Regions from separate parts of the Homo sapiens genome. Here region 2 is linked to region 1. Evidence: fine-mapped expression QTL. A gene starts in region 1. The other region holds a variant in brackets. All regions are shown on one strand. Distances are from middle to middle. Region 1 holds the start of PARD3-DT (PARD3 divergent transcript). Region 2 overlaps LOC107984221 (a long non-coding RNA gene).

Region 1 (14,661 bases):
CCACATCCAATTAACTTTCAGTACCTTATGTTCCTGATAAAGCCATGCCTGCCTCAGAGGGAAGGCAGGATGGACTTTTACCCACCAGAGAATCCTGGTTCAAATGCTGAAATTCCCCCAAATAGCAGCAATCTTACTACCTGCACCTTTGGCTTCCCCCAGCAACCTAGAAGGCCAGCACTCTAAGCCTCACCGAAGAACTTGACTCTGAACTTCCCTCTCAAAGATTAGGCTGAAATAACTGGCATTTATATTTTATTTTATTTATTTATCTTGAGACGGAGTTTCACTCTTATTGCCCAGGCTGGAGTGCAATGGTGCCATCTCAGCTCACTGCAACCTCCGCCTCCTGGGTTCAACTAATTCTCCTGCCTCAGCCTCACCAGTAGCTGGGATTACAGGTGTCTGCCACAACACCCAGCTAATTTTTTATATTTTTAGTAGAGACGAGGTTTCACCATGTTGGCCAGGCTAGTCTTGAACTCCCGACCTCAGGTGATCCACCTGCCTTGGCCTCCCAAAGTGCTGGGATTATAGGCGTGAGCCACTGTGCCCGGCCCTATTTTATTTTTTGAGATAGTGTGTCACTCTGTCGTCCAGATTGGAGTGAAGGGACATGATCATGGCTCACTGCAGCCTCAAACTCCTGGGTTCAAGTGATCCTTCAGCCTCATAGCTGGAACCACAGGTGTTTGCCACTACACCCAGCTAATTTTTAACTTTCGTATAGATAGAGTCTCACTATGTTACCCAGGCTGGTCTCAAACTCCTGGGCTCAAGTGATCCTCCTACCTCAGCCTCCCAAAGTCTGCAATTACAGGCATGAGCCACCATGCTCAGCTAGAACTGGCATTTATAAAGCATCACCACGAAGCACCTCTTCATATCACTGGACTTTCCAAATCCTGCCTCCAGTCAAGGTGGCCCGCCAGAAAGTGAGTGGCTGAGGTGGCTTTATTCCACTCTGCTGCACATTTGTCTTTAACAGAGTTGAGTGTTAATATCACCTGCTCTGCCAGCCTCCACCTTGTTCTGCCAACTTTCATGGACTTCACCAACAAGCTACCTCATTCTTCAGCTCTGGGACCTGGGAAGGAGGGAGATATTTGACTGGGGACTTGGGCTCTGAGTGGTGGGTCATGGCAAACATGGGTGCTTACTTTCTGCAGGGATGGGCCTTTTCTGGCATTCTGAGGCTGGGTGACACCGGGGCTTCTAGAAGTGGTGATCTCAGCCTGGACTCAAGTTTTTGCAAAGTGGGCTCTCTCAGCAGGGCAGTGCTGACATACCTTCCAGCAGTGTCTGGGAACCAGAACAGGAGAACGAAAATGCAGAGAAGGGCCAGGCATGGTGGCTCACACCTGTAATCCCAGCACTTTGGGAGGCTGAGGTGGGTGGATCATTTGAGGTCAGGAGTTTGAGACCAGCTTGGCCAACATGGTGAGACCCTGTCTCTACTATAAAGTATAAAAATTAGCCGGGCGTGGTGGTGCACGCCTGTAATCCCAGCTACTTGGGAGGCTGAGGTGGGAGAATCCCTTGAACCCGGAAGGCAGAGGTTGCAGTGAGCCAAGATCGTGCTACTGCACTCCAGCCTAGGCAACAGCAAGACTGCATCTCAAAAAAAAAAAAAAAAAAAAAAAAGGCAGTGGATACTTTGGTGATGGTTGCTGATGGACTGGTTGAGGGCAACCCTGGAATATTTTGAAGGGGGCTCTATTTGGGCAGGTGAGGACTTGGATATGTATTCCCAATGTGTCATGAAATTTTATGAATTACAAAAAAATTTTCATGAATTTTGACTCAAGACACCAAAGGCTCTGGCATCTAGAATTATGCAGTACTAGTTTTTCATCCATTATTAATATAAACGGAATCACTGCATCTAGATAAACTAGGTAGATTTAAATACAGCTGTAAGGCTTTATCTGGTTGGTGGAATCAGTGTTATTAATCCTCTGGATCATATTTTTTAAAAACATCCATATCCTTATTAGGTATTGAATAGTTAAAGGAATTGATGTACATAAAATGGTATCCACATATCCTGATGTCATCTCTGTTATGAAAGCTTCCCCCTTCTCTAGTACCGCCATAAACACTTTGCTGGCACTGAATATTTAATGTGTTGAATTATAGTTATTGGAATAGCTATCTTATTCTGACCTCTAGATTGTCCTTCTTTTACTCACCTTTATAATTCTGTAATATTTAGCCAGTGCTTCCTGCAAGGAAGGTCTTTACTAACTGCATGTGGAATCAAATTTAAGTGAATTGAGTGCAGGCCTGAGAGTCAGAGCTGGAGTTTTTGGTTGTAGTCCTAGCCCAGTCACTGGAAAGTTGTATCACCTGGCTAGTCATTTCTTTGAGCCTTGGTCTTCTCCTGTCCTCCTCATCTCTCCTGCCTCCTCCACTGTCATCATTTGCTATCCTGTGCTGGACTTTGTTACCCTCTGCCTTCATTACGGTAACTGGACTGTACTACGCTATACATTCCCATGTGGCAGCGTGGCAGCATGTACTGTTTTTTTTTTTTTCTTTTGAGACAGAGTTTCATTCTTGTTGCCCTCGGCTCACCGCAACCTCGGCCTCCTGGGTTCAAGCGATTCTCCTGCTTCAGCCTCCCGAGTAGCTGGGATTACAGGCATGTGCCACCATGCCCGGCTAATTTTGTATTTTTAGTAGAGACGGGGTTTCTCCATGTTGGTCAGGCTGGTCTCGAACTCCCGAGCTCAGGTATCTGCCCACTTCGGCCTCCCAAAATGCTGGGATTACAGGCGTGAGCCACCATACCCAGCCGTACTGTTTTCTGATACATTATTTTATTTAACATTCATAACTTATGACCAGGTGCCGTGGCTCACACCTGTAATCCCAGCACTATGGGAGGCTGAAGCGGGAGAATCGCTTGAGGACAGGAGTTCAAGACCAGCCTGGGCCACATAGTGAGACCTTATCTCTACAAACAATTTAAAAATTAGCTGGGCATAGTGGTATTTGTCTGTAGTCTTAGCTGCTCTAGAGGCTGAGGAAGGATTGCTTGAGCCTGGGAGTCTGAGGCAGCAGTGAGCTAAGATTGTGCCATTGCCCTTTAGCCTGAACAACAGAGCAAGACTCTATCTCAAAAAAAAAGAAAGACTGACTCATAACCTATGAGATCTATGAGATGGATATGGATATGATAAGCTCTACTTCTCTACTTTTCAGCTGATAAAACGGGCTGGAGAAAGAGTGACTGTTGTGTCTAAGGCACTAGTAAGTGGCCAAATATGGATCTGAACCTAGATCAGTGTGATGTCCTATGTACTCTGGTTATTACTGAAAAATGACTTTCGATTAGAATTATTTTGAGAAAGCCCCACTCTAATTTATTATACTCAAGCTAGTATACCCCTCTGAACTAGTGTAGCATCAAAACTAGTATACATTCTCTGCCGCGCGGTGGCTCACGCTGCAATCCCAGCACTTTGGGAGGCTGAGGCGGGCGGATTGACCAGCCTGGCCAGCATGGTGAGACCCTGTCTCTAACTGAAAATACAATAATTAGCTGGGCGTGGTGGCGGGCACCTATAATCCCAGCTACTCGGGAGGCGGAGGCAGGAGAATCATTTGAATCCAGAAGGCGGAGGTTGCACTGAGCCGAAATCACGCCACTGCGCTCCAGCCTGCGCAACAGAGCGAGACTTGGTCTCAAAATAAATAAATAAATAAATAAATAAAAATAAATACATAAATAAATGTAAAAAACACAAAATAAAATAAAGTAGTATACATTCTAAACTAGTAGTATACTCTCCCAATGCATGAAAACAGAAACAACACCTATAATTATCAGTAATTGTTGTTGTGGATCCAAGTATCTATGTAAGAAGCAAAAAACCCACATCAACAGTTGTTGTCATCGTTGTCACAAACTTAATTACTGGCTAGAAATGTCTAGTGCTGCAGCCAAACAGCAGTAGGAGGAGCCTTTCCCATGGCTGAGTGGAAGGAGGGAAACCTAGACTATTTCTGGGTCTGCCTTGAGCTTTCTCTGCCGCCTTGGGCAAGTGACTTTGGCCCTGGGTCAATGTCCTGGAGTAAGATGGGGCTAACACCACTGCACTGATTTGCTGGGACAGGTGGTGGAAAGTGGTGGTCCAGGGCTGGGAGAGGAGAGGAAGGGCAATGTTTCCTAGGAGAAACTGCACTATGCTGGGGCAGCTGCGGTGCTGCAAAGCGCAGGGAGTGTGGCAAGCGGACGAACCTCGTGTCTTGTTTCCTTGTTTTAAGATTGGAGGTGGAGTGGGATGGATGGTCGATCGCCAGCTCTTCCAGCTCTTAAGTGCTCAAGTTCTGCGCCAACCCAGGGGAGCTTGATTGCTTTCACGTGTCTTGGAAACAACTGGCAAAAAAGAATTTCACATAGTCTGGAAAGGGCTTGGGACAGGGACCACTCTTTGCAGACATTTGTCATTCTTTAAACATAATGACATACATTTATTAAGGACTCATAGTCCATAACTAAGACAAAATGAGCTTCAGTTACGTTCCCTAACTCGGTCCACGTTCCTTTAGAACGTCTCAAGCCCGCATGTCACTCATCGCGGAGTCGCAGCCTTCCCCTGGGTTCGGGCGTCTGCGTTAAGCGCCGGCACATCGTGGGGATCCCCGCGTGAGATTTCTCTGCGCCGTCGGAATAGACTGTTCACGGATTCGCGTTAGGATTCCTTATGCTGCAGAACTTCAAAGAAATAAATGTATCAGAATTGCGATGTTTAAGTTCTAATCTATTTAAGCGGGTGGGTCAGCAGAGGGTCAACAGGAAACTTCAAGGTAAATAGTGGCCTCTGGAAAAGGCCCGGTCGCTCACGGCTTCCCCACTGTCTCCCCAGAGCAGACTATTAATTCTTGCGTTTCAGGCAGAACTGCCGCTGCCGGCCCTGCAGCAGAGCTAGGGAGCGGGCAGGGCAGAAACCCAGCCGAGCAAGCTGCAGGCTCGAGTCCCCGCGGGCGGAGAGGCTCGGGCTGGAGCCTCCGGGGCGGTGAGGAGGGGACTCACCGCACTGAGCACAAACTGCTTTCCCCGGGAGCGCCTGCACCCAAAACCCTCCAGTTCGAGGAATGGGATTAAAAGTGACAAAGAAAGGGGAAGGGGGGCTCCGTGGAGACTTCTGGAGGCGTGGAAGGGGCGTCCCCGAGGAGGGGCGACGCAGCCCTGCAGGGTGCTGGGCGGGCGGGGTGAAGGGGGCTGGGGGGCGCCTGGGCCAGGGCTGGTGGGGGCAGACGGCCGCCTGCCCGTGCTGGCACTGGGGCGAGGGGTCCCGCGCCCCCGGAGGGAGGGAGGGAGGGAGGGAAGGAGGGAAGGAGGTCGGCCCCCGAGGGCGGTGGCGGGGGCGCGAGCTGCGGTCCTGCGCTCCGCCCCGCGCGGGTAGCCGGCCGCGCCTCCCCCTGCCGCATGTGCGCGGTGTTGTGTGCCCTGCCCTGCTCCTCCCCCTCCCCTCCCCTCCCCTCCCCTCCCCTCCCGCCGTCCCCTCCCCCAGCGGCCCCGAGCGAGCGCCAGCGCCACACAGCCCCGGGCAGCCGCCGGCGAGCGCGCCGCGACGCCGAACAGGTGGCCGGAGGCTGCGGGCGCCGCGGCGGGGAGAGGCGAGGCAAGCCCCGGGCGAAGCGAGGCGAGGCGAGGGCGGCCGGGCCGGGCATGCGAGCTGAGCGGCCCCCCGGCGTCGCCGCCGCCTGCCCGCGCCCCTAGCCGCCCGCGCGCCCGAGTCCCCAGCGGCTCCTCCGCGCCCAGCGTCCTCGGTCCCGGCCTCGGCTGCTCCGGCTGCGCTCGGCGAGGGGCGCGGGCCCGCCCGCGGCGGCGGCGGCATGAAAGTGACCGTGTGCTTCGGACGGACCCGGGTGGTCGTGCCGTGCGGGGACGGCCACATGAAAGTTTTCAGCCTCATCCAGCAGGCGGTGACCCGCTACCGGAAGGCCATCGCCAAGGTGAGGGGCCGGGGGCGCGGGCGGGGAGGGGGCGGCGGCGGGGACGGCGCCGGGATCAATATGGCGCTTCCTGGAAGGGGGAGGAGAGGCGCAGGGAGGCGGGGAAAGGGAAAGTGCGGCCGGTCGGGCCTCGCGGGCGCCCCCCGCCCCGGACTGCGGGCGCCAAAGTTCTCTGCGCGGGCCGGGGCGCAGCCTCTGGGACACCCAGCCGGGTCCCGCGGCCCCCGCCCTCACCCTCCGCCCGGGAGCTCCGGCCTCGGTAGCGCGGGGCGAGCCGGGCAGCGGCGCATAGGCCGGCCCTGGGCGCCTCCCCGGAGTCTGCAGACCCAGCCAAGCCCCGAGCCAGCGCGCGGGGGGCGCAGGCCGGGAAATCCAGCCCCAGGCCTTTCCCGGCTCCCAGGCCCCGGGGGCACAGGCCGGGGACTGGGAACTTTTGGTGTGAGGAGAGTTTCGTGACTGCCCTTCCGACAGAGGCGGGTTGCGAGCCTTCTGCCTCCTCTCCCTTACTCGGGCGGGGGCGGAACAGCGGCGGGGGGCTTTTCCTCCATGTCCCCTGCTGGTAGGGGCCGGCAGGGGCGGCCCGTCGCGTCCGGGGGCTGCAGGGTTTGGGGAGTCGCCGGCTTGGGGTCGGGGAGGCGTTCCCGGGAGGGCCACCGCTGGCACTTGGCACTCGCTTGCGAGCATTTACTGAGCTGATCCCACTTGCTGGGCTCTGGAAAGCACAACCTTGGAAGAGTCGCGGAATGAAAAGTTTTCCTGCGAGGACCTCAGCTCCTACCTATCCCGGGCTGGTTCCATGTGGCTGGGCTGCGGGGCCGGGCCTGACTTGGGAGTTGAGTGGATTTCCCTTTTTCCTGGTGGACTGATAACATTGTCTCCACTTCACAGCATTCCTCTACTGTGTGTCAGAAGTGAAAAGGCGTTTTGTTAAATTGTTTTACCGACTGTGTCTGTGTTTGACAACAGCCCACGCTGAAGTTTCTCCCAAGCACCCGGGGATATATTTCCTTTGTAGTAGAGTCCTCTTTGGTGGGGAGCGCATTCGTTTGGGTGCAGTATTTCCCATTTGTTCCCGACAGTGGCCTGGCCCCTGTGGGCTTGGGGGCTGCAAATGACGTTGGAAAGTGGCTTGGTCAGCCCTATTGAGCGTACACAGGGTACTCCGGTGGCATCTTCAGTTCTCTCAGAAATTAAGAAGTAAAAGCTTTTTAGACTTTTGTTTTGCTTTTAGTATATATTGGAAAAAATAGCATAAATTTGGCCTTTTAAAGATAATTTTGGGGGACGTTTGGAGACCCGACACAAGGATGGAAGACGTTGGCTTTAGTAGCTCTGTTATGTTCCTTACAGTTGAACTCTTTTATTGAAAATCAAATAAAATTAGTGGGAATTGGGCACCTGTTTATCTTGCAAAGCTGACAAAGGGAAAGAAAACCATCTAAATGGACATTTAGCATTTTTAAGTGTTGTTTATGTGTGACAGTTTATGCTTTAAATGTTCCAAAAGAGTACTCAAATTGTTCAGGCACTCTGGAAACCAACAAAACAAATTGTGCAAGGAAAGAGAAATAAAGTAATATGCACTCTGCAGTACGTCTAGGCTCCTGAATAGGAAGAGGGTGGTCAACATTTTCTTTCACTTTACTAATTTTATGTGATTAAAATTGTTTTACCTACTGTGTCCCATGTTTCATCCTGCACAAAATAGACATAGGCTGAACTGCCTGTTTGGCAGTAGTTCAAATGTAGTTGTTCCAGGCATTCGTTCCACAGAAATTCTGAAGCTTTGACTGTGTCCATGGCACTGTTCTGGGTGCTGGACATCTAAGGGACCCACTGGCTGTGAGAAGCTGAGCAAGAGGCTGCGGGGTCCTCCAGGTGAAGGAGCTGGTGATGACATGGGGAGAAGAGGTGGCCTCTGGGATGCTGGGTGGCTAGAGTGCAGGGCCTTGGTCACGGACCTGGTCCTTATTAACGATTAGCAGTGGTTGTTTCACAGGGCGTAGAAAAGGGAGTGCAGTTTTTTAAGGGTGTCTGGGAAGGTGTCACAAAGAGAAAAGGGGCCTATGAGCTGAAGGAAGGGAGGGTGATAGTGACATGGGAGTTGGAGATGAGAGGGAGGGTCAGAGATGGGTCAGGGGTTCCAACACTTACATGCTCTTTAAGTACAACTTAGAGTTCTGTAGGTGAATTTTAACGGGGGCTTTGCAGTATACCAAGTTCAGTCATTGGATCCCAAGATTGTTGACCCTTAAATGTTGCCAGAGCTGGAGTGTCTTCTAGGTCTCCTTTTTCTCGTTTTTCTTCTGAAATTGCTAGACAATGATTAAGATTAATTTTTAGTCTTTCTTACTACTTTTCCCATTCTATATTAAGTGATGAGGAAGTGTTAATATGTATTTAACACTGTTTTAACTTTTATTCTCTATCTGTTCCTTATCCGTATTGCCTAATAGAACAAGAGAAATTCTGTGTGAAGAATTGGGTGGCTGGATAGTTGTGGAGTGGTGTTTAGGTTGCTAGGTGACATGTGGCTTGATGAGCTCCCATCTGGTGGGGAAAAGTGTGGGCAGATCATGTTTATGGCTTTGGATAATAACCAACCAAGCCAAAAATAAAAAATAAAAAGGAAAAGAGAAAGGTCCCAACTCTCAAATCACCAAGGCTTTCTCTGCAGTAAACATTTTCTGGTGTGGTGGGGCTAATTTTCTGGCATTGCATGTGAGCTGTTTTCTCTTCAGATTACACAAATCAATTTTTCTGGATAGTGAAGTGTCATGATTTAATACTAGACATGTCCTCAGTGAGTAGATATTTGAAGGCTTATGCTTAGTCATGTGTGACATTTCTTTTTTCCTCTCCTGAAAGATGGTTTTGTGGTTGTGATCACTGATGGTTGGGAATAGCTGTTCATCCTCATCCACCCATCTGCATTAGGAGCCTCGCTGAGGACAGTGCGGTGCTAGACATTGGGAACCGCGTTACATGGACCGTTCTCATGAGGGCGCAGGATGGGAGGATGGACCGTGTCTGCATCTGTTCTTCTGCGCTTGCGACCTGACACGCGTGATTCCAGGTGGACATGGTGCTGAGCTGCAGCGCTGTGTGGGGTTGGTTGAAGGGCTGCTGTGTATAAAAAGTCATGCTCTATGAAAAAAATATAAGACTGAATTCGTGCAATTTTCAAAAAAAAGTATAATCTAGGAGACAGGAAGAATATATAACAGTATAAATAACAGGAGGTGGTAGCATTAATTGGCACCACTGTGATACAGTCAGTAATCGCTTCTGGATTTTGGAGGTGGGTGCTATCATTATGGGGTGTGTGTGGGAGTCTCATTTAGTCACTAGGATTTGAACTGGGCTTGGTTGGTGGGAAGGCTGACCTTGATATAGGGCAGTGCTTGCTAACTGGGTGAGGCACCTGCCTGCAGGGGCAGATGGGCTCTGGGTCTGAGGTCTGCAGTTGGGGTCTAGGTGTGTGAATCTGCAGAATGTCTGCTACGATTCTGATAAGTGAAAGGGAGGGCATTCCAGGAAGGCAGTATGGACAAAGGCGATTCAGGCATTCAGCCCAGGGGGTCAGGATCAAACTGAGGAGGACAGAATGCCAGGGCAAGACCCTGAGACTTCGTGCAGTAGGAAGGACTGTGGTGTTTAGCTAAGAGTCAGGGTAACAAGTAGTTCTAGGAGGATGACCTGAGCAACCTTAGATGAGGTTTGGATGGATAATTCCTTAGCATTTCATTCTAAATAAAGGTTGCTGAGTGACCAAAAGGGGAAGGAGAGAGTGAAGGGCAAAAGTGAGGGCAAGGAGGTGCTGGAGCCCCTTTGCTCACTGTTCCCACCTCCCTCATAGCTCTCCTCTCAGCCTGTAGGGGAGCTTTGGATTGGGTTTGGTGACTTAGGTTTACAAGCCATTTAACCTTGGGTATAGGGGAGCTTTGTATTGGGTTTGGTGACTTAGGTTTACAGGCCATTTAACCTTGGGTACACCAACCCTACGGAGCCCCATTATCTCAAGTGGAATATTCCCTGGCAGGGTTAATGTAAGTATTAAACAGGATGATGAGAGGGAAACTCTAAAGTCCTGGGCCCGGCCCATACTAGCTGCTCCGTAAAGATGAATGGAATCACCAATATGTTTTATCCACCAAGCAGTTTTACACCCAGGGAACTTTCCCAGGTGTCCCACTATTGCTGCTTGGATTTTTCCTGTTTACTTAAAAACGCAGCATGTAATTTCATTGAAGGATAGGTAAGAATGTGAGATTGAATGACGTGCAGCACCACAATCAGGAGAACAAAATTGTGTGTTGCATGTGTGTATGGGCTGGGGAAGTAAAAGCTGCGGGTATTGGCTTGATTACAGGTTGATTATTGGGGCCTCTGGCTTCTGTCCCCAAGCACATCACTTTAGAGTGATTTAATAGCAACCTGTTGTTATTACAGGTTGAGCATCCTTTATCCAAAATACTTGGGACCACACAAGTATTTTGGATTTTTCTGGACTTTGGGATATTTTTGTATATATAATGAGATAGGTTGAAGATGGAACCCAAGTCTAATGTATTGTTAGAATTTATGTTTCCTACGTACCTTATACACATAGCCTGAAGGTAATTTTATGCAGTATTTTTGTGCTTGAAAATAAGTCTGTGGTAAGTACTTACATGTGGAATTTTCCAGGTGTGGCGTCATGTGGGTGCTCAGTAAGTTTCAGATTTTGGAGTATTTTGGATTTTGGATTTTTCAATTAGGGATGCTTGACCTGTATTTTTTAAAAAGTTGAGCTCATGGACAGAAACTTTTGAAAATGTGCTTTTTTGGTGGCGGGAGACTGTTGATTAGTAACAATGACAGTCATGGTTTTTATGAAAAATCTTGTGGTTGGTATGGAATTTTTCTGTGAATAAATGTATGACTGCATGTTATTCATTTACAAGCGTATTGAAACTTTTAAGAAAATAGTTGTACTGTTGCAGAGATTGAAAGAAAATAGAGGCAAGCATAAAAATAGTGAAATGAAAGCAGCTTTATTTATTTATTTATTTTTTTAACATTTTCTGCCTTCCCTCTAAAAAGGAAAAAGAAACTAAACATTTTTGAAAGGCTGATCTTTCCAGAATTCAAGTCACATTGTCCTCTGGTGCTGAAGCGCCTTTGTCCCGCGTTCTCCAAGTCCTGCCTTCTGAGCACAGCCTGTCCCTGTAGGGACCCCTCTTGCCTTCCAGCCACTCCCTCTGCAGCTGCTCCACCCCCTGGGACTCACATACACTTTGCTGCCTCTGTTCTGGCATTTTCTGTTTCTTCTGCCTGGGACATTTGCTCCTTCCTTGCACTCATTCGTGAGTCTTAGCCCAGACAGCCATCTCCAGGAGGCTGGCTCTCCATCCCAAGCTGCTAGAGGATCTTTCTCCCTGCCTGCTGCCTCTCCTGGGGACGTCCTGGGTGTAGCTCCTGTACCGACTCAGATGCTTGGGCTGTGCTGTGTGGTTTTCAAGTGTATCCGTGCGCCCTTCCTCCCTCCGGGTGAAATGCTTGAAGCGGTGGCTGAGCTTCAGTCTTGGTGAATAGCCCGTGTCTGTCACATTGCAGTCAGAATGTTGAGTAAATAGAAAGCTGAGAATCAACATGTTACACTGCTCTCACACAAAAAATACACTTCTGCTGAGAGGACTATCATCAGCACTCGTGAATTTAAAGGACTTTAAGGTTTGGTGTGTTTGACCTACTGGCACAAACAGCTTGTAATGGAAACTAAGATTTAATGAGGTTTGGAGTACTTGGAAGTTACTCTTTCGTATCAGCTGTCTTGAGGGAGTTCAGTTTGTTTTTCAGCTCAAGCAGAGGACCCTCCTGGGATTCGCCTTGGGCGAGGTTCAAGGCAGGTGGCCAGGGCTGTGTGAGAATCTGGCCCTGGAACACACCTATGCTTGGTCTGGCGCCTCTGATTCCGTCAGTTGAGATGCTTGGCTGAGTGCCAGGACTAAGTAGGAATGTTTAGGATCTGAGATTCTCAGAGAGAATCTGGCGGATGTGAAGCGCTTCTTGGCTTGTGGTAGACATGGATAAATTGGTTGTGGAGGGAATATTTAAAGTCCCACTTGGATGCAAACCCACAGACGGATCCTCCGTCTGTCCTGGGAGGTTCTACCTCCCCACAGAGTTGGGTGCAAGTTGGTGATGTTGAGCTCCCCATAGATGATTAGAGCCCTCGGTATTTTTTATCAAGGATGGAAATAAACATGTAAGATTGGGCCAGAAGGTGCTTTCTATAGGTAATTTTCCATCGGGGGAGATGGCATGCTAAGCCCACACAGCATGCTTTCATCCTGCTTGGCCACTCGCTCAACATTCCTGGCTGGGACCAAGGTCAATGGCAGTAGAGCTGGACATCAGTAAATGTATACAGTTTTACCTGTTTTGGGTACCTTTTCTGTACAAAAGCAAATCTTTATCAAAATAAATGCCGAGTTCAGTGAATAAAGTAGAAAGATGACTGATTTTTTTTTGTCTTTTAGTCATTATTTACAAGTTTTTTCTTTCTTTCTTTTGTTTTTTTTGAGACAGGGTCTTTGTCACCCAGGCTGGAGTGAAGTGGCGTGATCTCTGCTCACTGCAGCCTCAACCTCCCAGGCTCAAGCGATCCTCCTGCCTCAGTCCCCCAAGTAGCTGGGACTACAGTTGTGTGCCGCCACACCTGGCTAATTTTTGTAGTTTTTGTAGAGACGGCATCTCGCCATGTTGGCTAGGCTGATCTCAAACACCTGAGCTCAAGCAATCCACCTGCCTTGGTCCTCCAGAGTGCTGGGATTACAGGCACGAGCCACCATGCCTGGCCTAAATTTTAGCAAATAAGTAAAAATAACTTTGTTTTAACTTATTTAGTAAATAAGTAAACATTTTAGTAAATAAAGTTAAAATAACTTTCGTGTATAGGTCTGTGCCTTCTTGCATCTGGCCTGCTATCTTTACGTGGTTTTTGCCATTTAAATATTACTTTTGTGTATTCCTTTTTTCTCCATCAACTCATATTGGTCCTTGCAAGTAAAATTTCAAGCTCCACATCCAAGTGACTTTAAATATCAATTATTTATTTTTTTCACCTAAACAGAGTATATTTTGTATATAGTCTCTGTACTCTATTCTGTATATATTTTATATATACTCTTTATATATATACACACACACACAAGCACACAAGAGAAATGAAAATGTGTACACAAAACCTGTACATCAGTGTTCATAGCAGCAAGCCCACATATTGTATAATTCTGTTCCTATAACATGACCAGAGTGGGTAGCTCTATAGAGACAGTAGAGTGGTGTTCCGCTAGGACTGGGAGTTTGGAGTCATGGAGACTGTGAATGGGTATGAGGTTTCCTTTTGGGATGATGAAAATATTCTAAGATCATGGTGATGGTTGCACAGTTCTATTCAAGTGTATACTTTCAATGGATGGAGTTTATGGTTATGTGATTATATGTCAATAAAGATGTTAGAAAAATAGACTGCATAAGCCACTATGAACAACGCTCCATTTTTAGGTATTTTGTAGTTCTGAGCATTTCATAAAATGACATATATATGTGTATCAGAGATGCTCAAAACACTTCAAATGAAAACTGGCTGTCTTTAGGAGTTTTCCATATAGTGTGGAATCCCTGCTTTCTCAGGCCTGTCCAATGTGTCCTGTTTAGTGTCTGGTAAGCTCCTGGCTGCTGAGCCTCCAGGTCCCCTGGTCTCTGTGTGCTACCCCCTACCCCCTCTAAGGGCTTCACCAATTGTTCTTTAGCCAGAGACTCCTTCTACCCAGCTCGCCAGCTACCTTTGTGCAGTGGAGGTTGAGAATGCCCCAAGGATGCACGTAATGGACCAGCCTTTCCAGCATTTGGCTTTGGCTCCCAGAAATTTTGAGCTTTGGCAAATCTTACAAGCTCTGTGAGCCTCTGTTTCCCCATGTTCTCATATTCAGAGGTGCTGGGCTGGACTCCCACTGCCAGTTCCCTGAGCTGTGCAGGGACTCCTGCTCTGCATGGTTTGTTTTGGTGCTCATGGGACCATAAGTGATGTGCAGTGGCTTTTCAGATGGTTATACAGGGTCCAGGACCTCTTACTGCTTCCCTCCATGCTGTGAGAATATTTTGCCTCACCCCGACCCCCCCAACTTTGAAATGACGGGGCTTGCTCTCCAGGTCAAATGGATGCTATTCAGAGTTAGGGTAAATTTTGCTTAGGGTTGGCTGGGTGAGAAGGCTCACGCCTGTAATCCCAGAGCTTTGGGAAGCTGAGGTGGGAGGATTGCTTGAGGCCAGGAGTTCAAGACCCAGCCTGGGCAACATAGTGAGACCCCGTCTCTTTTTAAAAAAATTAGCCAGGCATAGGCCGGGTGTGGTGGCTCACGCCTGTAATCCCAGTACTTTGGGAGGCCGAGGTGGGTGGATCACGAGGTCAGGAGTTCGAGCCTGGCCAAAGTAGTGAAACCCCATCTCTACTTAAAGTACAAAAAATAGCTGGGCATGGTGGTGCACACCTATAATCACAGCTACTTGGGAGGCTGAGGCAAGAGAATCACTTGAATCCTGGGAGGCAGAGGTTGCAGTGAGCCAAGATAGCGACACTGCACTCCAGCCTGGGCGATGGGGAGATTCATCTCAAAAAAAAAAAAAAAAAATTAGCCAGACATGGTT
Region 2 (17,298 bases), 780 kb before region 1:
CAGCATTCACAGTGCCCCCTGGAGTTTGTTTTTGAGGCAGTTGGGCTGGTTCTTCTATGCAGAGAGGCATAGCTTCTCTCCCAAGGGAGGAAAAGAACTTCCAAGCACTGTTCCCACCTCCGACAGTCCTAAGATCTTCCAAGATACACTGAATGGACACAGATTCATTCTCTCAATCATACCAAAATGATGCCTCCTCCCCAAGCCACAGGAGGGCATGCTGGCCAAAGAAGACCCCAGAGGAAAGTGCTGAACTAAACAGCTGCCTATTAGATGCAAGCAGGTCAGATGAGGCTGCAGGTTAATAGATATCTCACTTGTGAGATGTGCATCAATGCGCTTAAATCACATTCCCCAAGGCAGCAAAGACGGGCCCCAGTGTGGAATGCATAGACCCCCAAAATTCCACTTTCCACAGACTCGCGGACCCAGGCATCTTTGGAAATGGAAGTCACCTTAAAATATACTTAGTCACCTTCCCAACTTTCAGGTGAAATTAAGATGTGGCCAAGACCATCCAGCCTCAGTACAGAGCTTAAATGATATTTGCTATCCCTGACTTTTGATCTGTAACACATCAAAAACACACACAAAAAATTCAACTGTCCTGACTGTTAAGAAATACAATTATCTGGATAGCCCAATGTTAGCCCTTCAAGTGTTTGAAATTGTATTATTTTAACTTTTCTATGGAATTTTTTCTAAGGCACCCTTCAGAAACAGCAGAGGCCGGGTGCAGTGACTCACTCCTTCAATCCCAGCACTTTTGGAAGCCAAGGCAGGTGGATTTCTTGAGCCCAGGAGTTCTAGACCAGCCTGGCCAACATGGAGAAATTTCATCTCTACTAAAAATAGTAAAATTAGCCAGGCGTGGTGGTGTGTGCCTGTAGTCCCAGCTACTTGGGAGGCTGAGGTAGGAGGATCACTTGAGCCTGGGAGGCGGAGGTTGCAGTGAGCTGAGATCACACCAGGCCACTGCAGTCCAGCCTGGGCCACAGAGCAAGACCCCGTCTCAAAAAAAAAAAAAAGAAAAGAAAAGAAAAGGAAAAGAAATTGAGCAGAAAAATCAGGGGAATTGAGTTTTCTTTTGTGAAGAAAGCAAAGGACTCCACCATTGCTCACAGGTCCTGAGCAATATGTCAGGACACCCTTCATGTGATATCAGCTGCAATCAAATCCAACACATGTTCTCACCATCCAGGCAGGAAGGAATCATCCTCTTCTTTGTCATTGTTTCTAACAATGCCCTTTGACTTACTGATGCCTTTCAAAACATTACCAATAGTATCATGAACACAGTTAGTACCATAAATGTTCCCTGAGCACCTGCTGTGTCTTCAGCACTGTTCTTGGCACTAGGGAAATGGCAGAGAATGAAGTATAAAAATTCCTGCCCTCACTGAACTTACATCCTAGTGGGAAGAATTGACAAAGAACAAGATAAATGTCTTCAGCAAAATTGACTGTTAGTAATAAGTTCTAAGGAGGGTAGTGGATGCCAAGGTTTAATGGGGTAGCCAGTGTCCTAAGAAGAATACATTTGAGTAAAGACAGAAGCCGGTGAAGGGGCAGCCACGTGGACGTTATGACCACGAGCCCTCCCTGATGAATTCCTGCTCTCTTTTCTAATTCACTTGGACCAGTGGCTGCATGGCACATTTTGAAAATTACTAAAATGCCCTAAAATTCTGTATAGTGTATGCACATGGACCAAGTTACCTCCTGCAGCCTGTCTGTAACTCGTGTCACCTGTCCCTCGCAGGCTAAAGTGACACTACCCAGCAGGGACCTGGTGGAAGCATTCCCAGGCGTCGTTTTCTCTCCAACACACAGGTGTCCAGCAGGGGTCTCTGCACTGGCCACAAACACACTGTTCCTTTCACGGATGGGAATATTCATTTTTAGAGTCAAATCAATGAAAAAAGTACTCATCAAGCAGTCACTGGTAGTCAAAGAAGTAATTAGGAGAAAACAGCACAAAGTTCAAGGGTAGAGGACGTGGGTTCAGTTCTGGTTCCAATTGCTGACCAGTGTTTGACCTTCAGCAAATATTAGGTTGACACAGAAGTAATTATGGTTTTTGCCATTAATCATGACGTTGCCCAGGCTGGTCTTGAACTCGTGGCCTCAAATGATCCTCCTGCTTCAGTCTCCCAAAGCACTGAGATTCCAGGTGTGAGCCACCTCGCCCGGCCACAGGTTCTCTCTCTAGGTGAGTGGCACCAAGATCCATCTCACCCAAGCAGAAAACTAGTACTCAGTGTCCGTGAGGTATGTTTTAAAATTTCACTGCTTAAAGCTCTTCAGTGGCTCCTCACTGATGGTGCCAAACAGAGCTTGCCTGGCCCTGCGAGCCCTGGACTCCGCTTGCCTCTCGGGCCTCACCCTTTACTCCCCCCGACCCTGCAATGGCACTGACCTTGCACGGCCTCTGATCTCTGCTGCCTCTGAGACTTGCCACAGCCGTTTCCTCTCTGTGACTGGCTCCCAGGGATTTCTATCTCCTTTGCCCAAGACTGGGTTGGGTGTCCTCCTCTTGCGGTGCTCATTATGACAAGAAGCACATGCATTGTCAGAGCAATGCCTGCCCTGCCCAGCCTCTCTGCCCTGCCACCCCCAGCCCAAGACCATGTGAGGCTCTAGTCCTCCCTGGCCAAGATGTGCCTTTGCACTCACTGCCCCTCAGCTGGAAGTCAGCTCCACTTCATCAACAGTAGAGAGAATACGCTGGGAAGAGGTCCGGCCAGTCTCAGTCCCCCACGGATCCTGAATCTTTTTCACTCAGTTGTGAAACAGGGATAATCAAAGCTCCTACTTCTCAGGGTTGTAAGAGAATGAAACGAACTAACAAGTGTAAACTGCCCAGCACAGCAGAAACATCCGATAAATAGTAGGAAGAATTCGGTTTGCTTCGTATGTTTCTTTTTTTTTTTTTTTTTCTGAGACGGAGTCTCACTCTGTCACCAGGCTGGAGTGCAGTGGCATGATCTCGGCTCACTGCAACCTCCGCGTCCCAGGTTCAAGCAATTCTCCTGCCTCAGCCTCCCGAGTAGCTGGGACTACAGGCACACGCCACCACGCCCAGCTAATTTTTTTATTTTTAGTAGAGATGAGGTTTCACCATGTTGGCCAGGATGGTCTCAATCTCTTGACCTCATGATCTGCCCGCCTCGGCCTCCCAAAGTGCTGGGATTACAGGTGTGAGCCACCACGCCTGGCCTTCTTCTTGTCGTTCATACTTCTTTCACATGGTCCATTTTTTGTGTGTGTACAGGGCTGGCCTTTTTTGGCATGGCCAACCAACTGGAGTGGTTCTTTCTCTTTGCTCAGTGAATGAAGCAGTCACAACACACCAGAGGCTATTTCTCATGTCTCGAACCCTTCCTGATTCAACGTTCCCTGGCATGGGATGTTCACTGTCAACCATTCGGTCCTGACCTCTCTGTGTCCACAGCCCTTTCCAAAGCCTAGGGCTCCCGATGGCCAGACATTTGTCCAAATCTTAATTATCTGCAAAAGTGTGTTGCACTATTTCTCTGATGGAACAGATTCCATGACCCGCTGAGGCCTTCCAAGAGCACAGCTCCCCAGCAATCAGTGGCAGCACCCCTGAATGGAGGGTGCTTGTCCCACGAGCGCTAACACCCACAGGCAATGCACTGCCAGCCGGAGTTCTTCTGTGCTTTGCAACCAGCATTTCACAAATGGCAGCACTGTATGTTTGCAGGGAGGTCCTCTCTGCTTGGAAGCAGTGCAGGCTTTGCTTTTTCAAAATTTTAAGTTATCGTGTTTTATTCTCTTTGTTGTATATACCATTGAAGAAGTTAGTCTTTTTAAATTGACACATGATAATTGTACATAGTTATGAGTACAGTGTGATGTTCCAATACACGTATAGACTGTGTAATGATCAAATTGGGATAATTAGCATATCCAGCATCTCAAATACTTACCATTTCTTTGTGATGGGAACATTCAAAATCCTCTCCTCTAGCTATTTTGAAATATAGAACACATTATTGTTAACTATGTCACCCCACTATGTGACAGCACATGAGGACTTATTAAGAAAGCTTTCTTCTTACATTCTTTTTTTCTAAGTAGTAAAAGTAGATGGAGGAGGCCAGGCCCGATGGCTCACACCTGTAATCCCAGCACTTTGGGAGGCCGAGGCAGGCAGATCACCTGAGGTCAGGAGTTCGAGACCAGCCTGGCCAACATGGTGAAACCCCATCTCTATGAAAAATATGAAAATTAGCTGGGCACGGTGGTGCCCACCTGTAATCCCAGCTACTTGGGAGGCTGAGGCAGGAAAATCGTCTGAACCTGGGAGGCGGAGGTTGCAGTGAGCCAAGATCATGCCACTGCGCTCCAGCCTGGGTGACAGAGTGAGACTCTTTCTCAAAAAAAAAAAAAAAAAGTAAATGATTGTTTTCCTTCCCTTCTGGATAACAGGCAGGCAGCTTACGGACCCTGGGTAGGGCCTCCTGCCTCAACACACCTATGCCTCTTGTCTAACATCAAATATTAAATACTTGAGGTCTTCTGGCTTTTAAGGGTGATAAAAATTAAAATCTCTGGGAGAGGCAACTCACTACGTCTTATCAGTCATCTTTACTATGGTGTGAGTTAGAAACACTGCTCCTGGAAGCAGGCCTTTCTGTGAAGGTAAGGGCCTGGGGTGGAGAAGGGGGCCAATGGGATGTCACGGATATTTTCCCATGCTGCAGAGCTCCAGCATCACACAGAGCAAGGCCAAATTCAGGATTAGTGAGTCCTCATATCGACCTCCTGTTCATTTTTACGTTTTAGACAATAACTGAAAGAAGGAAGGAAAGGGAAAGAAAGAGAGAGAGAGGAAGGAAGGGAGGGAGGGAGGAAGGAAGGAAGGAGGGAAGGAAGGAAGGAAGGAAGGAAGGAAGGAAGGAAGGAAGGGAAGGAAGGAAGGAAGGGAAGGAAGGAAGGGCGGGAGGGAGGGAAGGAAGGAAGGGTTGGGGGAAGGGAGGGAGGGAAGGAAGGAAGGAAAGAAGGAAGGAAGCAGGGAGGGAGGGAGAAAAGAGGAGAGGAAGGAAGAGAAGAGAGGAAGGGAGGGGAGGGAACAGAGATACAGGCAGCTGTGATCATGGTGACTTCAGCATCAGATGATTAGTCTTGTTAAGAGAGAGGAACTAGTCCACGTTTTCCCTCTGTGTGTTCTCTTTGTTCTCTGCCGTGAAATATTAGAAGAGGGAATGAAGGAATTCAATCCATTTTAAAACTCACAACTGTTAGATGCCAACCCTCCAAACATTCACAGCCACTTTGATTCAGGACGAGGTTTGTTCCAAATGCGGATATATTCAGAAGGGCCAGACAGTAGTGTCTTGAAGCACAGGCGACAGCTAATTTATCTCTGAGCTAATGTCCCACCCTGTGGGACAATTTGTTTTGTTTGGTTTGGTTTGGTTTTTTAGAGACAGGGTCTTCCTCTGCCGCCTATCATCACTCAGGCTGGAGTGCAGTAGCCCAATCACAGCTCACTGCAGCCTCAAGCTCCTGAGCTGAAGCAATCTGCCTGCCTTAGCCTGAGTAGCTGGGACCACAGGCACACACATCACCATGCCTTGCTAATTTACTTATTTATTTTTGTAGAATAGGGGTCTCACTATGTTACCCAGGCTGGTCATGAACTCCTGGCCTCAAGCAATCCTCGTTTGGCCTCCCAGAGTGCTGGGATTACAGGTGTGAGCCACTGCGCCCAGCTGCACCAGCAATTTGAAAGACAGGTGATCTCGGGAGGTCTTTTTAATTCAAATTTTCTCTTAAGGAACACAAATGAAAGGAAGGTAGGGTACATTCCATTTTGTTTGCTGCAATGCAGTGGCTATGGCCTGGATCTCCACGGAAACCAGCAATGCAATTACCAAGCTCTATTTCCAGATGAAAGCAAAGACAAACAACAAAGTAGGAAAATTAAGTATGAGAAAAACGGACAACAGCTTCAAATCGACTGGGTGAAGGGACAGAGTTGGATCTGGTGGCACCACTGTCGTAAGGATCACTTTTATACCCATGAGTGTGATCTGGGTCCCCCGTGAGCCACCAACCCTGGTGGGTGCACATGCACTTCACTTCTGTGTTCGATGGTCAAGGCCACCCAGCCGGTGAGGGGAAAAACTGGGCCTGACATGGACGCTCCCCACCCCATATGCCACAGAAGTGTGACGGCCTCAGCCTAAAGAGGACCCATTCTGTGAGGCAGCTACAGGAGAAAATGGAAGGAGCCTTTTGCTTTTGCTTTTCTGTTGTTCTGTTTTTCACTTCCCTAAAGGAAGGAATGAGAGTTTATTATTGAGTGTTTCTGAAAAGGAATGAGAGTGGCCTTCAACAATAACACACTGAGCATCTGCAGTGTGCCGGACAATGTGTCGGGACTGCGAACAGGTAAGACGCAGGCTTTCCCCTGTAGGAGAGGGAGGCAGTTGAGTGTACTTCCAACAGCAAGAACAGTGACCAGCTTCCCATGTCCCCAGAGGCAGAAGACATGGCCGCATAACAATAGTGAATAGTAAGGTCTATAATAGAGTATGAAGAGAGCAAGAAGGAGACAACTAGGGCTGTTTTCCTTCTTGAAGTATTAGCGCTTAGCCTTACAAAGGTTGAGGGAGCTGCATAGTCATCCCTGCTAGTCCAAGTGTCTACATGCCCCCCACGCTAGGGTCTGCCGGAACCCACGGAATTGGAAATCTAGTGGAAACTCATGTTAACGTTACAGAAGACCTCCTTTGGGGTTCCAGTTAGGCTTGTCCCACAGTGGCCACCCCGTTTTTCTACCCATTCTCCAAGCAAGTGGTGAGCTATGAGTGCACTCACACGATGAAGAATGGTATTTGCATTACACACACACGCCTGTGGGTGAGGTAAGTTAGAGAGAAGAAAATAAGTCTCTGTGAGATTTCACAACTGCCTAACACCACGCAGGCTGTAGATGACAAGGCTGGGATTCTATCCCAATTGATTTGACTCCGAAGTCCATATTCTTCCCACTTGACACAAAGAAGCCACTGGGAGACCCAGGGAGAGCGTCATGGAGAAGCTCTCATTGTCAGGCAAGACTATAAGAGACAATCTTTGAGAAGTTGCTTCTCCTTTCTGGAACAAGCTAAGATCTACAGCAGGCATGCTGGCAAGCAACTTCAATCTTTCTTGGAAAGAGCTGGCATAAGAAAACTCAACGGATGATTAAAAGGCAACACAGAGCCCTTCTTGTTAGCTCAGTTTGGGTTTATGAAAAGACTCTGTTAGGGTAATCCATTCTAATCCCAACACTACCTCCAGGCAATTTCCTTGGGAAATGGGACTGAATTTTAAAAGATTAAATGTGTGTATATAAAGCATATATATAAATGATTTTCCCAAGGGGTGGCTCCTCTCTCATCCTAAGTGAGGCCTTGCTGGCTTAACTATAACGAGTGCGAATCACCCTGAACACTAATCCTTTTCCTTTTTCAAGACGTATTCTTCATAATGTGAGCGCACTCATAGCTCACTACTTGCCTGAAGAATGGTAGAAAGTGGGGTGGCAGCTGCAGTATAAGCCTAACTGGAACCCCAAAGGAGATCGCTAGTCCCATGTCTTCTGTAATGTTAACAATGAATCTCCACTAGATTTCCAATTCTGTGGGTTCCGGTGGACCCTAGGAGGGGCTTATGTAGACACTTGAACATAGCAGGGATGACTAAGCAGCTACCTCAAACTTTGTAAGGCTAAGCACTAATACTTCAAGATGGAAAACAGCCAACAAGAGCTTAATGATTTATTGGATTCAAAAATGGAGAGGCAAACATTTAAGGAAAATACAACATGACACATGTCTTTTAATCTTTTAATCTCTGTGCGTGTGTTCTGTATTTCAACCCTATTTGAGCTTCTTAAGACCAATGTCGAATCTGTTAAAGTGTTTTCCTGTCACCTAGGTTAATGCCCAAGGATAGTGTACTTAATAAATTTATGTTGATAAAAATCACCTTGCAAATATCTGTGTGGAATTTTTCTTTTTAATTTAAAACAGTAGATATAGATGTTATTTCCTGATTGGCCGGTTTTATGTATTTTGAAGTTTTGTTATCAGGTGC[G/A]TACGTATTAAGATTTGCATGGCTTCTTGATGAATTGACCTTTTTATCATTATGAAATGTCCCTCTTCATCTCTAGTAATATTTCTTATCCTGAAGTATATTTTTCTGAATCAATGTAATGATTCCACTCATTATATTTGTTTTCTTTTAAATCCTTTACCATATTTAGAATAACTGGTCTAAAGTTCCTCATCTGTAAATTCCATCATCTAGATCTATTATTTCTGAATCTATTTATACTGACTGATTTCTTTCCTTATTATGGGTCACATTTTCTTGTTTCTTAATCTGTCTAGTTGTTTTTATTGCATGCTGAACATTATATGTGTTATGTTGTTGAATGTCTTGATTTTATCTTCCTTTAAACAGTGTTAAATTTTGGTTTGGCAGGCAGTTAAGTTGTTTGTGTATTACTTTGGTCTTTCCCAGGCTAATTTTAAGCTTTGTTAAAACGGGTCTAATTTAGCCCTACTATCAGGGTTTTATATTTCCTGAGTCTTGACTGAATTTCTCAGGTGTTTAAGAAGATCTCCCAACTGTAGCTAGTCAGAACTTAAATATCTCCTTGCCCTGTGTGAGACTTAGAATTGTTCAGCTTAAAGCTTCCACTCAAAGCTGTTCATTTCCTGACTTAGAAAGTTCCATGCTTTGCATGCACAGTTTAATATTCAGCCCAAGACTCAAGAGGACTTCGACGTAGATTTCTGGAGTTCTGCATAGCTTCCTCCTCTCTGTGTCTCGCCCTACACACCTCAGCTGTGCCAACCTCCCTAATCTCTGATCTGTGGCTTCTCAACTCAGTGAGACCCCTCTGCCCTACCTGGATACTTCCTGGATGCCATTCAAAAAGTGCCTCCAGGTAAAAGCTCAAACTATCATAGGACTTACTTCATTTCTTTCCATTGTGTCAGAGAGCATGATCCTTTGCTGCCTGTTTTCAATAGCCGAACATTATTGCTTCCCATATTTTGTCTAGTTTTTTAAGTTATTTGCAGTGGGACGTCTAGTCCAGTACTATTTATTCTATCTTGGCCATGAGCAGAAACCTCTGCCTGATCATCTGCATCAACCTCGATCCCAGTTTACCTTTACCCTGGGGATGCAGAGATATAGTAAGATACTTCCTCCCATGAATCTGTAATCTGTCTTTGCTATATGAAGATGTGTGCTTGCCTCTCTGCAAGCAACCTGAAATAAAATATTCTAACCAGGCCATGAAAATGATAAAGTCAACCTGGACATGATCATGTATGGGGCAGATTGTGTACACTTAGGAAAGAAACAAAAATGAAAAGTAAGAGAAAGGAAGAGCTGGAAAACCAAGGAGAAGAGAAGGAAGAAGAAAAAAAAATCACAAAAACAATAATGCCATGATCTGAATGTTTATGTGCTCCCCAAATCCATATGTTGAAATCCTAACCCCCAAGGTGATGTGATATGAGGAGGTGGGGCCTTTGGGAGGTGATCAGGTCATGAGGGTGGGGCACTTATGAATGGGATTGGTGCCCTTATCAAAGAAGCTCTGGAGAGCTGCCCTGCCTCTTCTGCCATGTGAGGACACAGCAAGAAGTTGCTGGGTCTAGGAACCACGAAACACCCTCACCAGACACTGAATCTGCTGATGCTTTGACTTTGGACTTCCCAGCCCCCAGAACTGTGAGAAGTAAATTTCTGTTGCTTATAAGTCACCCAGTTCATGGTATTTATTAAATAGCAGCCTGAATGAACTAGGACAAAGAACAGACATGGAAAATGAACTAGAATTTTAACTCTCCATGACTTAAGTTTTACAAAAGAATAAGACTCTGCTTCCAGCCCTGTGGCTCTCCAGAAATGCTGTGGGCATTGAGACATGGATTAGAAATAGAAACCAAAATATTTCTGTTTTCATTCATTGAGTTTTCTCCCATTTGCAAGGAAAAGCATGCTTATGATAAGAAATCCTTATACTAGCAAGAGTAAACTATTGCTTTTCTCAGTGACAAAGGTTGTTTTGTTCTATTTTTTTTTAATCTTGCATGCCATACTGTTTATTACCTCCCATTTTCAATTATTATTATTATTATTATTATTATTATTATTATTTTGACAGGATCTTGCTCTGTCACCCAGGCTGGAGTGCCATGGTGCAATCATGGCTCACCGCAGACCCAATCTCTTGGGCTCAAGCAATCCACTTGCCTCAGCCTCCTGAGTAGCTGGGACCATAGGCACGTGCCACCATGCCTGGCTAATTTTTAAAATTTGTGTCGAAATGGGGTCTTGCTATGTTGCCCAGGCTGGTCTCAAACTCCTGGGCTCAAGAAATCCTCCTGCCTCAGCCTCCCAAAGTGCTGGGATTACAGGCGTGAGCCATCACAGCCAGCCTGCCTTCTATTTTTCAATAAATAAACTATAAACTTGGGGCTCTCAGCCTTTACAGGTGAGGAAACATCTTGGTAATTCAACACCTAATTCTCCCCCATGCCTGAAATTCCTCTCACAATGCAGGCATTACACCCCTGTCTCTGTGAGAGACGTCATGAGGCACAGAGAATAAAACCCCTCACCATGTCTTCTGTAATGAGGGTAACATACTGTCCATTTCTTTATGAAGAATCCCCTCTCTTCCCTTCAGATTGCAAATCAAAACTTGATGGCCTCCTATGATTGTGAAAATATTTTAACTTAACAACTGAAACAAATATAAAGTTCTCAAAGGAAGCAGTGAATTTTGGCACTGGAATGAAAGTAGGTATAGAGTGCTGGAGAGTCCAAAGAGTTGAGCCTGTTTCTAAAGCTGGGCCGGGTGCAGTGGCTCACACCTGCAATCCCAACACTTAGGGAGGCTGAGACTGGAGGATCACTTGAGCCCAGGAGTTTGACAGCAGCCTGTGCAACATGGCAAAGCTCCACCTCTACAAAAAATACAAATAAAAAGAAATTAGCCAGTGTGGTGGTGCATGCTTGTCATCTCAGCTACTCAGGAGGCTGAGGTGGGAGGATCACTTGAGCCCAGGAGGTCGAGGCTACAGTGAGCCATGATCATGCCATTGCATTCCAGCCTGGGTGACAGAGCAAGACTCTGTCTTAAACAACAAACAAACAAAAACAAAAACAAAAAACAGCAACAACAACAAAAATAAAATACTTGAGCTGAGCTGATTGATACAGCTACTGCACTGTAGCTCCATTAGCTTCTGCAGCAAAATGCCTTCCTCTGTGCAGTTTATGACATCAATAAATAATTGACCCTAAAAGCAACAGGTGTGGAGTTCTTCCTTCTATTTCTAACTTCTTACTTAGCTGTTAAAAAACAAAACCCATGCTGTTGCCAGAGTGATCAAAAACAGAAGGTCTTTTTCTGACAAAAGACAGATGGGTTGAAATTAACTGTGCCTTTGTTTATGTCATTTTGGTTTTGGCTCAGTTTGTTGTTGTTGTTTTTTAAGCTCTTATTCAATGAAAGCCTTAGCAATGAACTGAAACAGGATGGAAATTGCAGGGCATTTCTACCATTTCTCAGGAACAACCAAACTCTAAAAGCAGTTGCTTTCTGTTTCTCTCTCTTTTCTGTTAAATTGGATACTGAGGCAAACCAGGAGCTGAAGATATCCAAAGTTCTCTCAGAGTACAGCACTTTCAATATGGCCATTGGGAGCCATTATTTAAGGGAGCAAGGACAGGATATGCATGAGCTTCTGACAGTAACTACACAGATATGCTTCTTCTCTTTGGAGCTGAGAGGAGAAAAGGATGGTTTCGGGCAAGAATTCCTTTCAGCCCCCACAGGAGGTCATTTTCTGTTCCTGCACTTACAGCTCCATCCACCATTTTCCTTAGTGTAAGGGGGGGCAGCTCAGAAGGAGTTAACAGCAACTTGGGAGGCTGAAGCAGGAGGATTGCTTGAGCCCAGAGTTCAAGACCAGCCTGGGCAACATAGCAAGACCTCCATCTCTACAAAAAATAGAAAAACAAGTTAGCCAGGCGTGGTAGTACATGCCTGTAGTCCCAGCTACTCAGGAGGCTGAGGCAGGAGGATTGCTTGAGCTCAGGGGTTCAAGGCTGCAGTGAGCTATGACCATGCCACTGTACTCCAATCTGGGCAACAGAGGGAGAACTTGTCTCTTAGGAAAAAAAAATGTGGTAACACTCGCTGATTCTGGGGCTGGTAGCAGATACAGGAGCCAGTCGAGACCTGAGGGGTGGGGTGTGTGTCCTGATCCACACACTCACAATGAGGATGTGCCCAGAGCCAGGGTGGGCCTGGGCCTGCTGTTGGGTGGAGCCCTAACTAGGAATGGTCCTGGGACCTCAAGGAGCCCTGCACGCCGGGCCACATTGTACTGGGCCCCATCTTCCTTCATGTGAGCCTTGCCTTCTTTCTGTTCCCTGACTGCCACTCTAAAGTGCAACCTAGAGAGGGAGACAGCTCAGATGACCTTAGCTATGACAACACCAGCAACTGACAGAGATGGAGAGGGAGGGGTGTTCTCTTCAGATGGAGAGGTACATGCAGAAAGAAAACCACATGGCTGGCTGGGTGCAGTGGCTCAAGCCTATAATCCCAGCCCTTTGGGAGGCCAAGGCAGGTGGATCACCTGAGGTCAGGAGTTCAAGACCAGCCTTGGCCAACATGGTGAAACCCCATCTCTACTAAAAATACAAAAAATTAGCTGGGTGTGGTGGTGGGCACCTGTAATCGCAGCTACTCGGGAGGCTAAGGCAGGAGAATTGCTTGAACCTGGGAGGTAGAGGTTGCAGTGAGCCTACATCGTGCCACTGCACTCCAGCCTGGGCAACAGAGTGAGACTCCATCTCAAAAAAAAAAAAAAGAAAAGAAAAGAAAAAGAAAACCACATGGCCACGGCCACCTAAGTATTTGTAGTCTCAGGAGAGAGGACAGAGAGAGAGAGAGAGAGAGAGAGAGAGAGAGAGAGAGAGAGAGAGAGAGAGAGAGAGACAGACAGAACTCCCAGACAGAACTGGTTGATTCAGAGAGGACTTCGGAAATCACTGGCTTGACTCCTTCAGACATCAAGAGCAAAAATGAAGCTGAGAAAAGTGCTGTAGGCTGAACAAGTCCCCCCAACATTCATCTGCTAACGTCCTAACCCACAGAACCTCAGAACGTGCCTATATTTGGAGACAGGGTCTTTTAAGAGGTAATGAAGCTAAAATGAGCCCATTAGGGTGAGCCCTAATACAATCTGACTGGTGTCCTAAGAAGAAGAGATTACGACCAGAGAGAGACACCAGGGAGGTGCGTGCACAGGGAAGATGCTACAGGCACCGGGGGAAGCCGCCATCTGCGAACCAAGGAGAGAGTCCTCGGGAGAGACCAACGGTGCCCACACCTTTGTCTCGGCTTTCTGGCCTCCAGGACAGTGAGAGGGTGTTTCTGCTGCAGAAGACGCCCAGTCTCTGAGGTATTCTGTTCTTGTAGCCCTAGCAGAAAGTGAGGGAATTTGCCCAAGATCACAGAAGAATCTGGACTCAGAGCTGCCTCTTCCAGGACCGTGGTCTTTCCATTTAACCCAGAGCTGACCACACACACACACACACACACACACACACACACACACGTAGGTACATGCAGGAGCCTCACACTTCCAGAGGGTGTTTTTTGTATAGTCCTCTGAAGGCACAGGGACCTCTGAGGGAGGAAATTGTGTGAAATTCAAGCAATACTTATTGTGGTCACAAGAAACCTGACCCTGGACACTCAGATCAGAAGCAGAACTGGTGGTGCAGCGAACACCCTACCCTAATTCTGATCTCTTGGGGTACAGGCATTTTACATAGGGGTGTATGGGGGCGTGTGTGACAGAGAGAGAGAAAGAGGGAGGGAAGGAGGGAGAGTGAGCACACACCACCGGGGAGCCTGAACACACGGAGGCTGGGGTAAGCTGCAGGCTGTCTCTTCTCTGCCAGCTGTTTCCAGGCTGTTCTAGAGGGCAGGTGCCTTTGCTGTCACCACCGAACACGCCCAGGCTGAGAACAAATGCTTGTGTGTTCCTGTGGTGCCTGAGAGCTTAGATCAAAGATATTTTTGAAGGACTTTGCACAAAGGAAGAAGAAATAACTTCAGCTTACCTCCAAGCTACTTGGATGCCAACTCCCTAAGTCTTTGGGTGTTCCTCCAATGCAGAACTTCTATGGGGTGCTCACACCCTTCACATTCGGTCTGAGTTCTCCACACCTCACCCTTCCCTCTGGGCTCTTTACGCAGCATCAGGTCCCAGCTCAGCCTACCTTGGAGCATTTCCAGCCCAGTTTCATGGGACAGTCATTTCCCTTGAAGTCGGGTTGGCTAATGTATTTCCACTTCTGTAGCTTTTCTCCATACAGTGTCTCCCCTGACTTCATAATAGCACTCACTTGGCTATTTACAGAGTATGTTTTCCACCACCAAAGACCCACCTGTGTTCCCATGGGGCAGGGGTGGGCGCTGGGAAGTTCCTGCAGACCACCTTCTGCTCAGCCACTTCCAATCTCTTGCAGCCATTTACTCTTGGTGGAAGAGTCAAAATGCAACCTTTCTGAGGTGACATGCCTTCACAGCATGTCTGCGACCAGTGTGTGTGATATGTTTGAGTGTTCAAACTTTATTAAGTTGCTAGTTTTAATTCAGTGAGTGGCACATGTGGGCATGGTGCTTGGCACTAGGGATACTACGGGGCCAAGCCTCTGCCCAGGGGGTCTCCATGTGGAATGGGATGCAGGAAGGTACCTGCAGGTCAGCAGCGCAGCAGGGTGCAGTATCCGGGTTAGGGCTGTTTCTGAAGGAGAGGCGTGGCAGGCTCCGAAGGGATGCGAGGGTCGCCAGGCTGTGATGGGCAGGAAGCAGCACATGCAATGCCCTAAAGCTGGGAGTGAACCTGCGGGGTACCGGGCACTGTGTGCAATGCAGGACAAACAAAGCCTGGGCGGGAACAAGGTGAGGGTGGAAGCAGGGCCCTGTTTGGTCCTGGGACAGTGTGGGTTCTACCCGATCGACAATGGAAAGTCACTGAAGGTCTCCATTGGAGGTGACACAGTCGGATCTGCATTTGAGGAAGATGGCATCACCTGTTGTGAAGAGAAGGACCCAGAAGGCGGCAGCGGTGGAGGTGAGTGCCCCTCAGGCTGCCAGGGATGGAACCCGGGGGTTCTGAGGAGGCCAAGTCCAGAGCGATGGGCATGAGTGAGGGTGGAGACAACCCAAGGGGAGGGAGCCTCCTGGCCCAGGCACCCAGGCAGATGGGGTCCCTCATTAAGAAGGGACAGGTGTGGGACACAGGGCCAGGGAGTGGGAGGAAGGGTGGCCTCCGTCAAGTAGAGGTGTCTGACAGACGGATGTGAGGACAGCCTGAGCTAGAGACAAAGCCCTGGAAATACTCGAGTAGATGAACTGCTGTTTAATGACCTGTCCATTGGAGGCATTTCGTGGTTCTTCAAAGGTAAGCTTCCATCTTTATCACTTGTATCACAGGCTCTCACCAAACGCAACTTCCCTTCTTGCAGATGCAGTGGGACCTTGATTTCTCACGAGGTGTCAGCTTTTTTGTGGAAGGTCTTGTTGAAGTGGAGATGTCCATTAACCTAACCCACCATAACACATCTTTTCCACACCTTTGATTTTCCGGTCCCACCGCCTCCCTTCATTCCTCTTTCATCCTCTTCTCTCCAAATGCAGCTGCCCTGTTTGCACCCTCAGCTACCTGTTCAAGTCTTTCCAAACAAGCATGAGGTTACGCACCTTGGGCAGCACGACAGGTTGCTACATCAACTATTTTTATCATCCTCTTTCTGCCATAGGAAGCTGGAGCAATCTAGTCTTCGGGCCTGGGCCCTCCTGGGTTTTGGTGAAGAGCCATCCTCCGTGGGTGGCAATTGGTTTGCCTGGGTTGGCTTCCTCCAAGAAAAGCCAGAGGGCTGGAATCATTCAGACCTCCTGAATCCACAGTGAGTTGACTCTCACAAATGAGTGAGCTCATGTAAAGCACCCTCATCTGTAACATTCTACCATCTCCCCCAATCGCCAAGGAATGCAGGTCCTGAGCATCCCGCCTGGGGCTCGGGCTCTAAAACAATAAACTGCAATGCTGGGAAGTTGTGCGCTGTGCCCAGTTGCTCCGGTTATTTCAGGACATTTTCCTGCTCACAGGCCTGATTGCCAGTACGTTTCCGTAGGGGCACCCGGTTGTCCGTCAACTCAACTTGTTTACTCTGACAAGTTTCATGTACAGGCAGAATGTGATTGGGAAAGACGTCTTCATGTCATTGAATACCGAGACTCTTCTAATTTTTATAACAGATTACACAGAGAACAAGATGCATAAGTATATGAAAATATTATTCACAAAATCAAAGATATTTCAACAGCTAGAGACGTTCAAATTTCCCCAGGATTTGGTTCAAAGAGATTGATCATTGACATTCAGGGGAAGCTGCATAAAGGCCATCCCTGATCAGGGAAAGTAGCAGAATGAGGTTGGTGTTGCACTGAATTAGGCTGATTGGGTCCCATGGATGTATTTTTCCTGTGGGCCAAATTTGTATTCTCTGTGAAGTAAAAAAAACAGGCCCGGGGAAATGAAAATGGCATGGGGAAGATTTAGAGCCTGTCTTACCTTGTTCACATTAAATGTTTTTATTGTAGCAGAGTCCTTGGAGCTTATATTTGTGACACAATTATAGCGTTACAAAAGTTTCAGGGAGGAATACGTCAAGCAATTTGCAAAAGTAAAGGTCCTGTAGTGGAGATAATAAAATACAGAACTTCAGTATACTCTCTTGTGAGCAATCTAATAAAATACAGAACTTCAGTATACTCTCTTGTGAGCAATCTCTGCTGCTGACTAGTGAGTAAAAAGATGAAATGTTGTAATTGGACCTAAAAACCTCAAGCACCAGCTAAGCACGGTGGCTCATGTCTGTAATCCTAGCACTTTGGGAGGCCAAGATGGGAGGATTGCTTGAACTCAGGAATTGGAGACCAGCCTCCAGCATAGCAAGATCCTGTCTCTACTAATATTCAAACAAATTAGCCAGTCGTGGTGGCACATGCCTGTAGTCCCAGCTACTTGCGGGGCGGGGCTGAGGAGGGAGGATCGCTCAAGCCTGGGAAGTCAAGGCTGCAGTAAGCCCTGCATTCCAGCCTGGGTGACAGAGAGAGACCCTGTCTCAAAAGAAAAAGATGTCAACAAAAAAACCTCAAGC

What was found. PIP is the estimated chance that this variant, and not a neighbour inherited with it, causes the effect.
Region 2: its variant is fine-mapped to the expression of PARD3-DT in esophagus mucosa (GTEx, PIP 0.97).

The regions. Positions count from the first base shown.
Region 1 is chr10:34,806,182-34,820,842 of GRCh38, reverse strand. It overlaps PARD3-DT (PARD3 divergent transcript), which reads right to left and starts at 5,075. Exons shown (of 2, transcript NR_108043.1): 1 at 5,042-5,075; 2 at 4,421-4,723. It overlaps PARD3 (par-3 family cell polarity regulator), which reads left to right and starts at 5,547. Exons shown (of 25, transcript NM_001184785.2): 1 at 5,547-5,967. The coding sequence starts at 5,848. RefSeq lists silencers at 5,199-5,248, 5,339-5,508, 6,029-6,308, 11,048-11,342.
Region 2 is chr10:35,583,114-35,600,411 of GRCh38, reverse strand. LOC107984221 (a long non-coding RNA gene) reads right to left here. Exons shown (of 3, transcript XR_001747422.2): 2 at 16,710-16,830; 3 at 14,066-16,377. Among named protein-coding and RNA genes, the nearest start is that of GJD4, 14 kb to the left of the region's middle. RefSeq lists an enhancer at 5,495-6,137. The variant G/A (reference allele first, on the strand shown) is at 8,116.